3 linked regions of the Homo sapiens genome follow. The protein of the gene in region 2 purifies or fractionates together with the protein of the main gene of each other region. This does not show direct contact. Each region holds a gene or a part of one and is shown on either strand. Other genes may lie near its edges. The genes, in order: RIPK2, IRF4 and PRRC2B.

The links.
Region 1: the proteins of IRF4 (region 2) and RIPK2 purify together in Homo sapiens (affinity purification with western blotting; one study listed by BioGRID). This does not show direct contact.
Region 3: the proteins of IRF4 (region 2) and PRRC2B purify together in Homo sapiens (affinity purification with mass spectrometry, with the first as the bait; one large-scale study listed by BioGRID). This does not show direct contact.

The regions. Positions count from the first base shown.
Region 1 is NC_000008.11:89,785,202-89,788,852, reverse strand, and holds part of RIPK2 (receptor-interacting serine/threonine-protein kinase 2), read right to left. Parts: intron 2,261-3,651; coding exon 2,167-2,260; intron 1-2,166.
Region 2 is NC_000006.12:401,732-405,382, reverse strand, and holds part of IRF4 (interferon regulatory factor 4), read right to left. Parts: coding exon 3,606-3,651; intron 366-3,605; coding exon 253-365; intron 1-252. UniProt on the Homo sapiens protein: Transcriptional activator. Binds to the interferon-stimulated response element (ISRE) of the MHC class I promoter. Binds the immunoglobulin lambda light chain enhancer, together with PU.1.
Region 3 is NC_000009.12:131,400,541-131,404,191, forward strand, and holds part of PRRC2B (protein PRRC2B), read left to right. Parts: intron 1-3,651.

The sequences.
Region 1 (3,651 bases), on a different chromosome or scaffold from region 2:
TCTTTCCTTCCTTCCTTCCTCCCTCCCTGCCTCCCTCCCTCCCTCTCTCTCTCTCTCTGTCTCTCTCTCTTTCTTAGATGGAGTTTTGCTTTTGCCACCCAGGCTGGAGTGCAATGGTTGCGATCTCAGCTCACTGCAACCTCCACCTCTCAGGTTCAAGCGATTCTCCTGCCTCAGCCTCTTAAGTAGCTGGGATTACAGTTGCATGCTACCACAACTGGCTAATTTCTGTATTTTTAGTAGAGATGGAATTTCACCATGTTGGCCAGGCTGGTCTTGAACTCGTGACCTCAGGTGATCCACCTGTCTCAGCCTCCCAAAGTTCTAGGATTACAGGTGTGAGCCACTACACTCAGCCATGAACCTTAGTGTTATATTTTCAAAAGCCCTCTGGCCATCAACCCTTTGTGTGCTCCTAGTACCTCAAATTAAAAACAAAAACAAAAACATTAAAAGTATAATTATCCGTCTTAACTCTAAAACTTGTTTTAACTTTTTTTTTTTTTAATTGAGATAGAATCTTGCTCTGTCACTCAGGATGGAGTGCAGTGGCGCAATCTCAGCTCACTGCAACCCCTGCCTCCCAGGTTCAAGTGATTCTTGTGCCTCAGCCTCCTGAGGAGCTGGGATTACAGGTGTGCACCACCATACCCGCTAATTTTTTTGTATTTTTAGTAGAGATGGGGTTTTGGCATGTTGGCCAGGCTGGTCTTGAACTCCTGGCCTCAAGTGATTTGCCCACCTTGGCCTTGCAAAATGCTGGGATTACAGGTGTGAGCCACCGCATGCAGCCTGTTTTAACTTCTATTTCTTTTAATGGCACCAATGTTCTCCCAGTCCCCAGGCTTAACAATTTATTTGGCTTTACCTCTTTTTTCTCTCATCGCTCCTCTAAGTGAAAAGTTACAAAGTCCTATCATCTAGTTGTCTATAACATCTCACATACCACCCCTCCTTTCTTTCATTCTGTATCGGTTCTTAATAATCTCTCACGGGTACTACAGTAATAGTCTCCTAACTGATCTCCCCATCTCAAGTTTCCTTTTCCTTTCAAAATATCCTACACATTCCAGCCAGAATGAATCTCCCCAAAGTAAAAAATTTTATGTCACTCCCTTGCTCAAAAAATTGCAATAGTTGCTTCCTACTCAAGTAAAAAAGTCCAAATAGTTCAGCTGAAAGTTAGAATTCTTGATGATATGACTCCAATCTACTTAGCTCTTACTTCTTTCATTCACCTTCTTTACTAGCTAAACCAAATTACTCACTGTTCTCTGTATTTTCTTGCTTCTGTACCTGTATGTTGTTCCTTTTGCCTGGAATGCCTATCCTTTGTAATTACAGATCCAGCCTTCAGCCAGAAATAATTTCATGATGACAACATGGTAGAGTAGAGTGACATGATAATATTTATCAAAAGTCTTAGATGTGCCAGCTACTAGCTATGTGATCCAGAGTCCTTAAATGTGTAAAATGAGGACATTTCTCTCACAAGGTTGTTGTGAAAGTCCTTTGTACAGTGTTACTCTTCCACTGTACTACCATAGCTCTAGATCCACGTCTCTCTTATATCACTATCTCATATAATAGTTATTTAGAAACATTTCTCCTTTTTCTTGTAAGAGATTTTTTTGCGGACATTTTCTGGCAGTGTCTAACATAATGCCTGTTTTTTAAAATTTATTTTTTGACACAGAGTCTCACTCTGTCGCCCAGGATGGAGTGTGGTGGTGCAATCTCGGCTCACTGCAACCTCCCTCCCAGGTTCAAGCGATCTTTCCGCCTCAGCCTCCGAAGTAGCTGAGACTACAGGTGCCCACCACCATGCCTGGCTAATTTTTGTATTTTTAGTAGAGATGGGGTTTCACCATGTTGGCCAGGCTGGTCTCGAACTCCTGACCTCAGGTGATCTGCCCACCTTGGCCACCCAACATGCTGGGATTATAGGTGTGAACCACTGCGCCTGGCCAAACATAATGCCTTAAAACTTAAATGTATTTGTTGAATATCACACTACTATTTTCCTATCTTTAGACTCTGTCGCTTTACAAAATGAGTTATATATGCAAATTAAAGTTCCATAGAAATCATGACTGCTTGCAAAAATTTGATCTTGAAAGAAAATGGAAAACTTGCAAGTAAATAATGATTGGAAAATCTACATACTAGATAAAAAATCATTGTCTTGAGGAGCTGGCAGGGACCTTGAAGTTTCAGGAGAACCACTATTTTCATGGAGCTGAGAGGATCCACATGATTCCTAAAGTAAATAAAAAATAAAGGGTTTAGGTTAATAAAAATTATCGAGCTTTAATTTCTAAATAGTTCTTGTTTGTGGCTTATCACAAATGAAGATAAAAACTACTAATTTTTTTTTTTCAGACAGGGTCTCACTCTGTTGCCCAGTCTGGAGTGCAGTGGCACAACCTAGGCTCACTGCAGCCCCACCCTCCTGAACTCAGGTGAACCTCCCATCTCAGCCTCCTTAATAGCTGGGATTATAGGTGCACACCACCATACCATGCTAAATTTTGTATCTTTCGTAGAAATGGGGTTTCGCTACGTTGCCCAGGCTGGTCTCAAACTCCTGCGATCAAGTGATCCACCAGCCTTGGCCACACAAAGTGCTGGAATTACAGGTGTGAGCCATTGTGCCCAACCTACAAAACTACTAAAAATTATACTTTACAAAATTAAAGAAACACATACATCTATAAAATAACCAACAAAGATAAACTTATTTTCTTAATTAACACAAATGGGCGAAATAGGGGAATAATGAAACATTAGAAATAATTATTTTTTCAGTATTTTCTACACGATCTCAGATGCTGCAGCCAGTAGCTAGAATAGTGAATGAGAAATTTGGTATCTGCAAGTCTGGTCTCCTACAGATTTAGAAATGCCTGTTCTCAGCACCTCAGGTTCCTTCCACATGGAGGCACAGGAAAACATGGAAAAAGTAATGGAGAATTTTACTCCTAGCTCTGTCATGGAATCACTAGCTAACTTTCAATAAGGTATTTAACCTCTCTGGCTCTCAGGTTTTTGGCTCTATTATCCGCACTGTCTATCTAAAAATATGCATGAATGGCCTCAAAGATCAAATGAAATACTGTACATCAAGTGATTAAAAATGTGATATACTATGCTTTAAGGTTCGTTTTAAAGATACTACAGGTTTAATATCCCTTATCTGAAATGCTTGGAACCAGAAGTGTTTGGAATTTTGGATTTTTTTCAGATTTTGGAATATTTGTATATATATAACGAGATATCTTGGGGTTGGGACCCAAGTCTAAATATAAAATTCATTTATGTTTCATATACACCTTATACACACAGCCTGAAGGTAACTTAATTCAATATTTTAAAATAATTTTATACCTGAAACAAAGTTTTTTTTTTTGAGGTGGAGTCGCCCAGGGTGGACTGCAGTGGTGCGATCTTGGCTTGTTCAAGCAATTCTCCTGCCTCAACCCCCCGAGTAGCTGGGATTACAGGCATGCGCCACCATGCCCAGCTAATTTTTATATGTTTAGTAGAGATGGGGTTTTGTCATGTTGGCCAGGCTGGTCTCGAACTCCTGACCTCAAGTGATCCACCCACCTTGGCCTCCCAAAGTTCTGGGATCACAGACTTGAGCCATCG
Region 2 (3,651 bases):
GAAAGAGGCACCCTCCTTTGAGGCTGTCCTCCCTGGTTCTTTGATGAGCAGATCTCAAGTCTGGGAGGAGCACGTGAGTCCTCAGACTGTGCTGCTCGTTGGACCATGCTTCCTCCCTCACTAGTTTAAGGGTTACGCTTATTTTTCCAGGTCATTTGACATTTACTTTTCATTTGGGACTTTTCTAAATGAAACTCTGGCCTTTACAAAGAACAGGAAGCCACTATGGTAGGAGTGTAACTGAGGACTCACGTGAGCTGTGATGAGCTTTCTTTGCCTCTGAGGGTCTGGAAACTCCTCTCCAAAGCATAGAGTCACCTGGAATCTTGGCAGGGAGCGGCCGTGGTGAGCAAACGCTTGCAGCTCTGTAGAAGCCCACAAGAAAGAGACCATGTTCAGAAACCCTCATCACCGAACACACCAGGTTAAACAGGAAGCAAGAGCTTACTGTGATTCTGAACACTGCAAGAGGAATGAGCACTCTTACTCCGCTGAGTGGGGCTCTTGATGTGAACATCTCAGATACAAAATAGCATGTATGCATTCCTTTGGGTGCTTTCCCCCCAGGGCCCTCGGTCTCCCTCGATTCTTCAAGAGGAACTAGTCGACAGCTAAAGAACACTGCTTTGCAGCATTGGACCCACGAAGATTCAAAAGGTAGTAGACCACAGTGAAGTCGGGAGATAAAGAACAAGAAACGTAGTCACGCAATGGCAAAAGACCAATTTATGCCATGGACAAGTTTTCATTTAAAAAATCAGAATGTTTCGACATCCCAGGATCATTTTAAAACCTCATCCCCTCACTACAGAGCCCACATAATCCAGTATCTGTGCTACTGCGGACATCCACGTAACTCAGGCACCACAGAAAATATGTAACGTCAACGTGGTGACTGAGCACCAGCCATCGGCAGCTGAGTCCCACTGTCACTATGCCTGAACTGTGTAACTCTGAGTAGACTTCTTGCCTGTCTCCAGGGATGGAACAGTAACTTGACTTGAGAACAGGAGTGGGGCAGCCCCCCTGGCCTCCCGCTTGTGGATATACACATGTACATCCTGAAGCCACCACACCTACCCAAAAGATACAAAACGGACTGGAACATTGTTGGAAAGACAAGTGCCCATCCCCTGACTTTAGCCCATGCTCCCTCCCCTGTACACAAGACAAATCTTCTGCCTGTAGCTACAATAAAATGTCACGCCCGCAAAAGAAACGAGTTGACACAGGAGCCGCTACAGCTTCTGCAGAACAGACGCGTCCTTATCAGATACACACCCTCGGGCCGGGCCCTGGGGGCTGTCCCTAGTGCTGTGCAGACCTGAATAGGAAGATATCAAAGATCTCCACTGTTCTCTTCAACTGAACAGAAGTTTCTAGCTAACTTACAGGACTATTTGACTTCCTGCTTTTTTTTTTTTCCAGAATTCAAATCAAACCCAAATGACTTAGTCAGAATCTGTAAAATACATTCACACTGCCGTGATCTGAGACTACACCTACACAGGCTAATCAGAATGGCGAGTTGGCACAATTCTCTGAGAAAGCATGGCTCCAACCCTAGATAACATGAGAGTGTTTGGTGGGAATCCTTAATTATGCAGAAGCTGGTTGGCACAGCTGCAGTTTTTACGTTCACAGCATCCTCCTTGAACCTCAGTGAACACTTTGAGGTGAGAGGCTGCAGTGGGCAAAGAGCACAGCCCTTGGTTACAGAGGAAGGAATGAAAGCCAAGACCAGCTCTTGCTCACAGATTAATAGTAAGTTCTAGTCGCGCAAGTCTACAGCCCCAGGACACTCACAGGCGTCCACCCCCTGCCTGTGCTGTCTCTCACGCAGTGCACCTGTGACTCAATGTGCACCTTCCAGCTTAGTCACCACGGGGGCTCTACCTCCCTAAAAACGCCCAGCAAGAGGCACTCAGAAAAGCCAGTGCCAGTTCCTTGTGACACTTTCATTAGAAAGCCCTCACCTTGTGGTATCTTCTGAATCCACTGGCACCAAGGTCCAGAGTCTTCAGAAATCCAGGCCCAGTGGGCCTTAGCCTTCCTGGCCCATGTGAGCTCTTCCAGATCCCAAGGCAGACACAGGAGATGCTGACAGGGGAGGGGGGGTCCCCCCAGTTGCCCTTCAATTTCCTTGGTCCCCCATGAACACCATGCCCAACCCCAAGAAGGATGGGACCGCCCTGGCCAGGGCTTGGGGATGGTTCTGCCCTTAGAATGAGAGGTGTCCAGCCCCAGGTGACTTCCTCACTTGCCGCCGCCTCGGGGAACCAGCACAGTTCTCCCTCTTCCTATGGTCAGCCTCTGTGTGAGCTTAGTTATTTTTTTGTGGTGCGGGGGGCAATGGAGTCTCGCTCTGTCCTGCAAACTGCAGCACCGTGGTGCGATCTCAGCTCACTGCAACCTCCGCCTCCCACAGGTTCAAGCGATTCTTGTGCCTCATCCTCCTGAGTAGCTGGGATTACAGGCGCCCACCATCACGCCCAGCTAATTTTTGTATCTTTAGTAGAGACGGGGTTTTGCCATGTTGGCCAGGCTGGTCTTGAACTCCTGGCCTCAAGTGATCTGCCCACCTCAGCCTCCTAAAGTGCTGGGATTACAGGCATGGGCCACCACACCTGGCCTGAAGCTTAGTTATCTGGGGACATATTTGCTTTGGGCACCAAAAGAAAATCTGGATGAGCTTACAAAAACTTGGGTCACTTACACCCAGAAGTACGAGCACATGTCAACAGTGCCAGAGCACACAGACGTGTCATATTTTTATTTTAAATAAGTTGAATGAAGAAGCACATTCAAGAAAAGGGGAGGCACATGAGAAATCAAAGACACAGGAGTTTCTGAAGGGGCTCAGGAAGGGACAGGACTGGGAAAAGGCAGAGGAAGAGTTGGCGGTGGGGTGGCGAGTGGCGGGTAGAGCAGCTCCCTCCCACGCGGGAGGCTCCCTCCACCTGGACAGCCCCACAAAGCCAGTGAGGAAGCCCAGCATGACAGGGCGAGGGGCTTCACAGAAGCCAGCCAGAGGTTCGCTGAATTGTCATGAAATCCAAGGTAGAAAAACAAAACTCACTGGTTCTGAAAAATATGCTTAGAAATGTTCATATCACAGAGCCAACTTATAGCACTCTCCTATAACTTCTCCTGTGCAAAACCAGTACAGTCCACTCCACCCTCCGTCTCACTCGTGGGCCAGCATCTGCATGAGGGTGACACACCTGACAACCAAGAATGTTAACAATATGCTTCCAACCTTTATGATTTTTCTGGGAACCTGAAAAGAGCCGCCACATCAGCAGACGTATTTGTCGAGATCATAGTGCAATGAAATGGAACTGTTTTAAGAGGCGACTGCTGAAAACCAGAATTGCAAGAGAACAGCCTGAGCCATGGTCCACCTGGACCATCTGATCCGGACTCTCTGCCCACAACAGAGCCAGACAGAAGATCTCTACTGGAGTCAAGCCCCAAGCCCAGTGGGCGCCGAAGTCAACAGGAGGAAGACCTCAGCCTGGGGTGGGAGGGACCCTGTGGTTTCTGACCCCTGTGGCAGGCAGGCCATCACCACCTCCATTCTAACAGATAACGAGGTGCCTTACCTGACAAGAACTGCTGTGTGTCAAAGAGCTTGCAGGTCTGGTCTCT
Region 3 (3,651 bases), on a different chromosome or scaffold from region 2:
ATCCTGACCTCAGGTGATCCACCTGCCTTGGCCTCCCAAAGTGCTGGGATGACAGGTGTGAGCCACCGTGCCTGGACACCCAGGCTGTTTCAGACTCCTGGACTCAAGTGATCCCTCCGCCTCCGCCTATCAAAGTGCTGGGATTACAGGCATGAGCCACGGCACCCAGCAAGGCAGCCTCTTTCATGAGCCACTAGGTTCTGGGGGGTCTCAGTCCTGGTTAAGCCCTTTGATGAGTGGGGCTTGAGGTCTTACTCCATTTACTGGTTTGAACCTGGAGAAGCCTTTTGTCTTAAACAGTTTTTGTTTCTAGGGACATGGATGCCCCATTGACTCCTGGGGAGATCCTGGTCTGGTGGGGAGGAGGCCCTGGAGAGCCCCCCACCTAACTTTGGCCTCATCCTCTTGTGGTTTCTTTCTTTCTTTTTTTTTTTTTTTGAGACGGAGTTTTGCTCTTGTTGCCTAGGCTGGAGAGCAATGGCGCGATCTTGGCTCACTGCAACCTCTACCTCTCGGGTTCAAGCGATTCTCCTGCCTCAGCCTCCTGTGATTTCTTCGGAGCCCCCTACAGTTTCTCTTTATAGCAGTTTTCACAACTTGTAAATAGGTGTTTTTTTCTTTATTTGAATTTTAAAAATTGTGGTGAAGTATACATAACATAAAATTTACCATTTTTAAGTGTACAGTTGAGTGGCGTGAAGCACTTTCACAGTGTTGTGCAACCATCACCACCATCCATCTCCAGAACGTTCTCATCTTCCCAAACTGAAACTCTGTTCCCATTAGATGCCAACTCCCCTCCCCCATCCAGTGGCGGCGGCCACCATTCTTACCATTCTTTCTCCTTTTTTTTTTTTTTTTGAGATAGGGTCTCACTGTCGCCCAGGCTGGAGTGCAGTGGCACGATCTTGGCTCACTGCAACCTCAGCCTCTTGTGTAGCTGGGATTACAGGCACACGCCACCACACCCAGCTAATTTTTGTATTTTTTTGTAGAGACGGGGTTTCACCATGTTGGCTAGTCTGGTGTCGAACTCCTGGCCTTAAGTGGTTTGCTTACCTCAGCCTCCCAAAGTGCTGGGATTACCGGCATGAGCCACCGTGCCTGGCCTAGTTTTTGTATATTTTATTTTATTTTATTGAGACAGAGTTTTGATGTTGCCCAGGCTGGAGTGCAATGGCGCGATCTCGGCTCACTGCAGCCTCTGCTTCCTGGGTTTAAGAGATTCTCCTGCCTCAGCCTCCCGAGTAGCTGGGATTACAAGCGCCTGCCACCATGCCCAGCTAATTTTTGTATTTTTAGTGGAGACGGGGTTTCACCATGTTGGCCAGGCTGGTCTCGAACCCCTGACTTCAGGTGATCTGCCCACCTCGACTTCCCAAAGTGCTGGGATTACAGGCGTGAGCCACTGTGCTTGGTCTAATTTTTGTATTATTGTTATTATTTTTGAGACAGAGTCTCGTTATGTCTCCCAGGCTGGAGTGCAATGGCACGATCTCGGCTCACTGCACCTCTACCTCCCGGGTTCAAGCGATTCTCCTGCCTCAGCCTCCTGAATAGCTGGGATTACAGGTCTGGCTAATTTTTGTATTTTTAGGAGAAACGGAGTTTCGCCATGTTGGCCAGGCTGGTCTCGAACTCCTGAGCTCAAGCGATTTGCCTGCCTCGGCTTCCCAGAGTGCTGGAATTACAGCCATGTGTAATCCCATGGTGGCAATGTTGAGCCACCTTGCCCTGCCAACCATTTTACTTTCTTTCTGTGAAACCGAATACTCTTAAGTACCTCATGTAAGTGAGATCATCCAGTATTTGTCATTTTGTGTCTGGCTTATTTTTAGCATAGTATTTCCAAGGTTCATCCATGTTGCAGCATGTGTCAGAACTAACTTCATTCTTAAGGCAGAATAATATTCTCTTATTTGCATGTATCTACCACATTTTATTTATTCATTCAGCGACGGGCAGCAGCCTGTAGATAGTTTTGTTTTCATGTATTGAATGGTCCTTTCCCCCAGTGGAGTGAGTAAATGCATCCGGAAGCAGAATTCTGTTGTTTCCCATTCATCACTGTGTGCCAGGTGTCTGAGAAGGGGGTCTTATAGGAGCCCACGCAGAAACCAAGCTCACCTCAGTCTGGGTGTGGGGCAGTCAGGGAAGGCATTCTGGAAAATGTAGCTGACTCGAAATAAGCACCTATTGAAAATAGTGTGCTGAGCCCTGGAACATTAAAAATGTGTTCCTATGTGGAAATCAGAAATGTATGGGTCCCAGAAGAGAACTTGTGGGTCAGCCTGCTTTCCAGAGAGTGCCGAGGCCCTTTGAATGGTGAACATTATGCAAGCATTCTTGTATGGCCAGTGGCCAGCAGGGAGGAGGGCAGAGAATGACTGTGCCTCCGGGAAGCCGGCGTCAACTTCCCGACACGCTTCAGGATCATCTCTTTGTATAGAACCATGGGATGGATCGCTGCAGGACCTACTGGAAAAAGGAGGTCATCTCCAGGACTCTTTCCATGGGTCCTTTGTGTCTTGCAGAACTTTTTTCGGCAGGTGTTGTTTACATATGGTTCAGAGCTTAAAGAACAGCTGTGTTCCAGGCCAGGGCAGAAAGCACAGGCCTGTCTGGGAGGGGCATCATCACTCCTGCCTGCCTGCCCAACCGACCTGTCGGTGGACTGAATGGGCCAAGTGTTCAGAAGTCCTTGGGAAGAGGATAGTGTCCTGAATCATAATGTGGTATTTTCTGGTTTTTTGTTTGTTTGTTTGTTTTTGGTAAAATGTTAATTGCAGAAGTATACAGGTTATTTTATTTATTTATTTATTTTTTTTTGAGGTGGAGTCTTGCTCTGTTGCCCAGGCCGGAGTGCAGTGGCATGATCTCGGCTCACTGCAACCTCCACCTCCCAGGTTCAAGCAATTCCCCTGCCTCAGCCTCTTGAGTAGCTGGGAGTACAGGTGCATCCCGCCACGCCTGGCTAATTTTTTTTTGTATTTTAGTAGAGATGGGGTTTCGCCTTGTTGCCCAGGCTGGTCGCAAACTCCTGAGCTCAGGCCATCTGTCCACCTCAGCCTCCCAAAATGCTAGAATTACAGGCGTGAGCCACTGCGCCTGGCCCATACTTTAAAAAAAAAAAAAAAAACAAAATTAAAAGCCAAGTGTTTGAAGAGAAATGAAAGCTTTTCCCCAATGTCCCAGGCAGTAACCATTATTGATAAATTTGCTTTGTTTATCCTTCTAGGCTCAGTGCACGTATAAATATGGCCTCATGTAGGGAGGTTTTTTAAAAAACAAAAATGGGATATACTATATTGTATTGCAACTTGGCATTTTCAAAATATCACAGTATTTTTCCATACGTATTTTTAAGCGTAACTTCTCTTATTTTTATTTTCAGTAATACTTTTTTTTTCTTCCTTAGGGATGTGGGGGTGGGTCTCGCTATGTTGACCAAGCTTGTCTTGAACTCCTGGCCTCAAGCTGTCTTCCCATCTTGGCCTCTGAAAGTGCTAGGATTACAGGTGTAAGCCACCACACCCAGCCATTTTTCCATATTCATGTGAACAGACCTGCCACACTAAGTGTTTTAAAAATAATGTTAGGTTTCTAAAAAATATACAGGTGTGTAAAAGAAGAAAAAATCGTTTATAATCC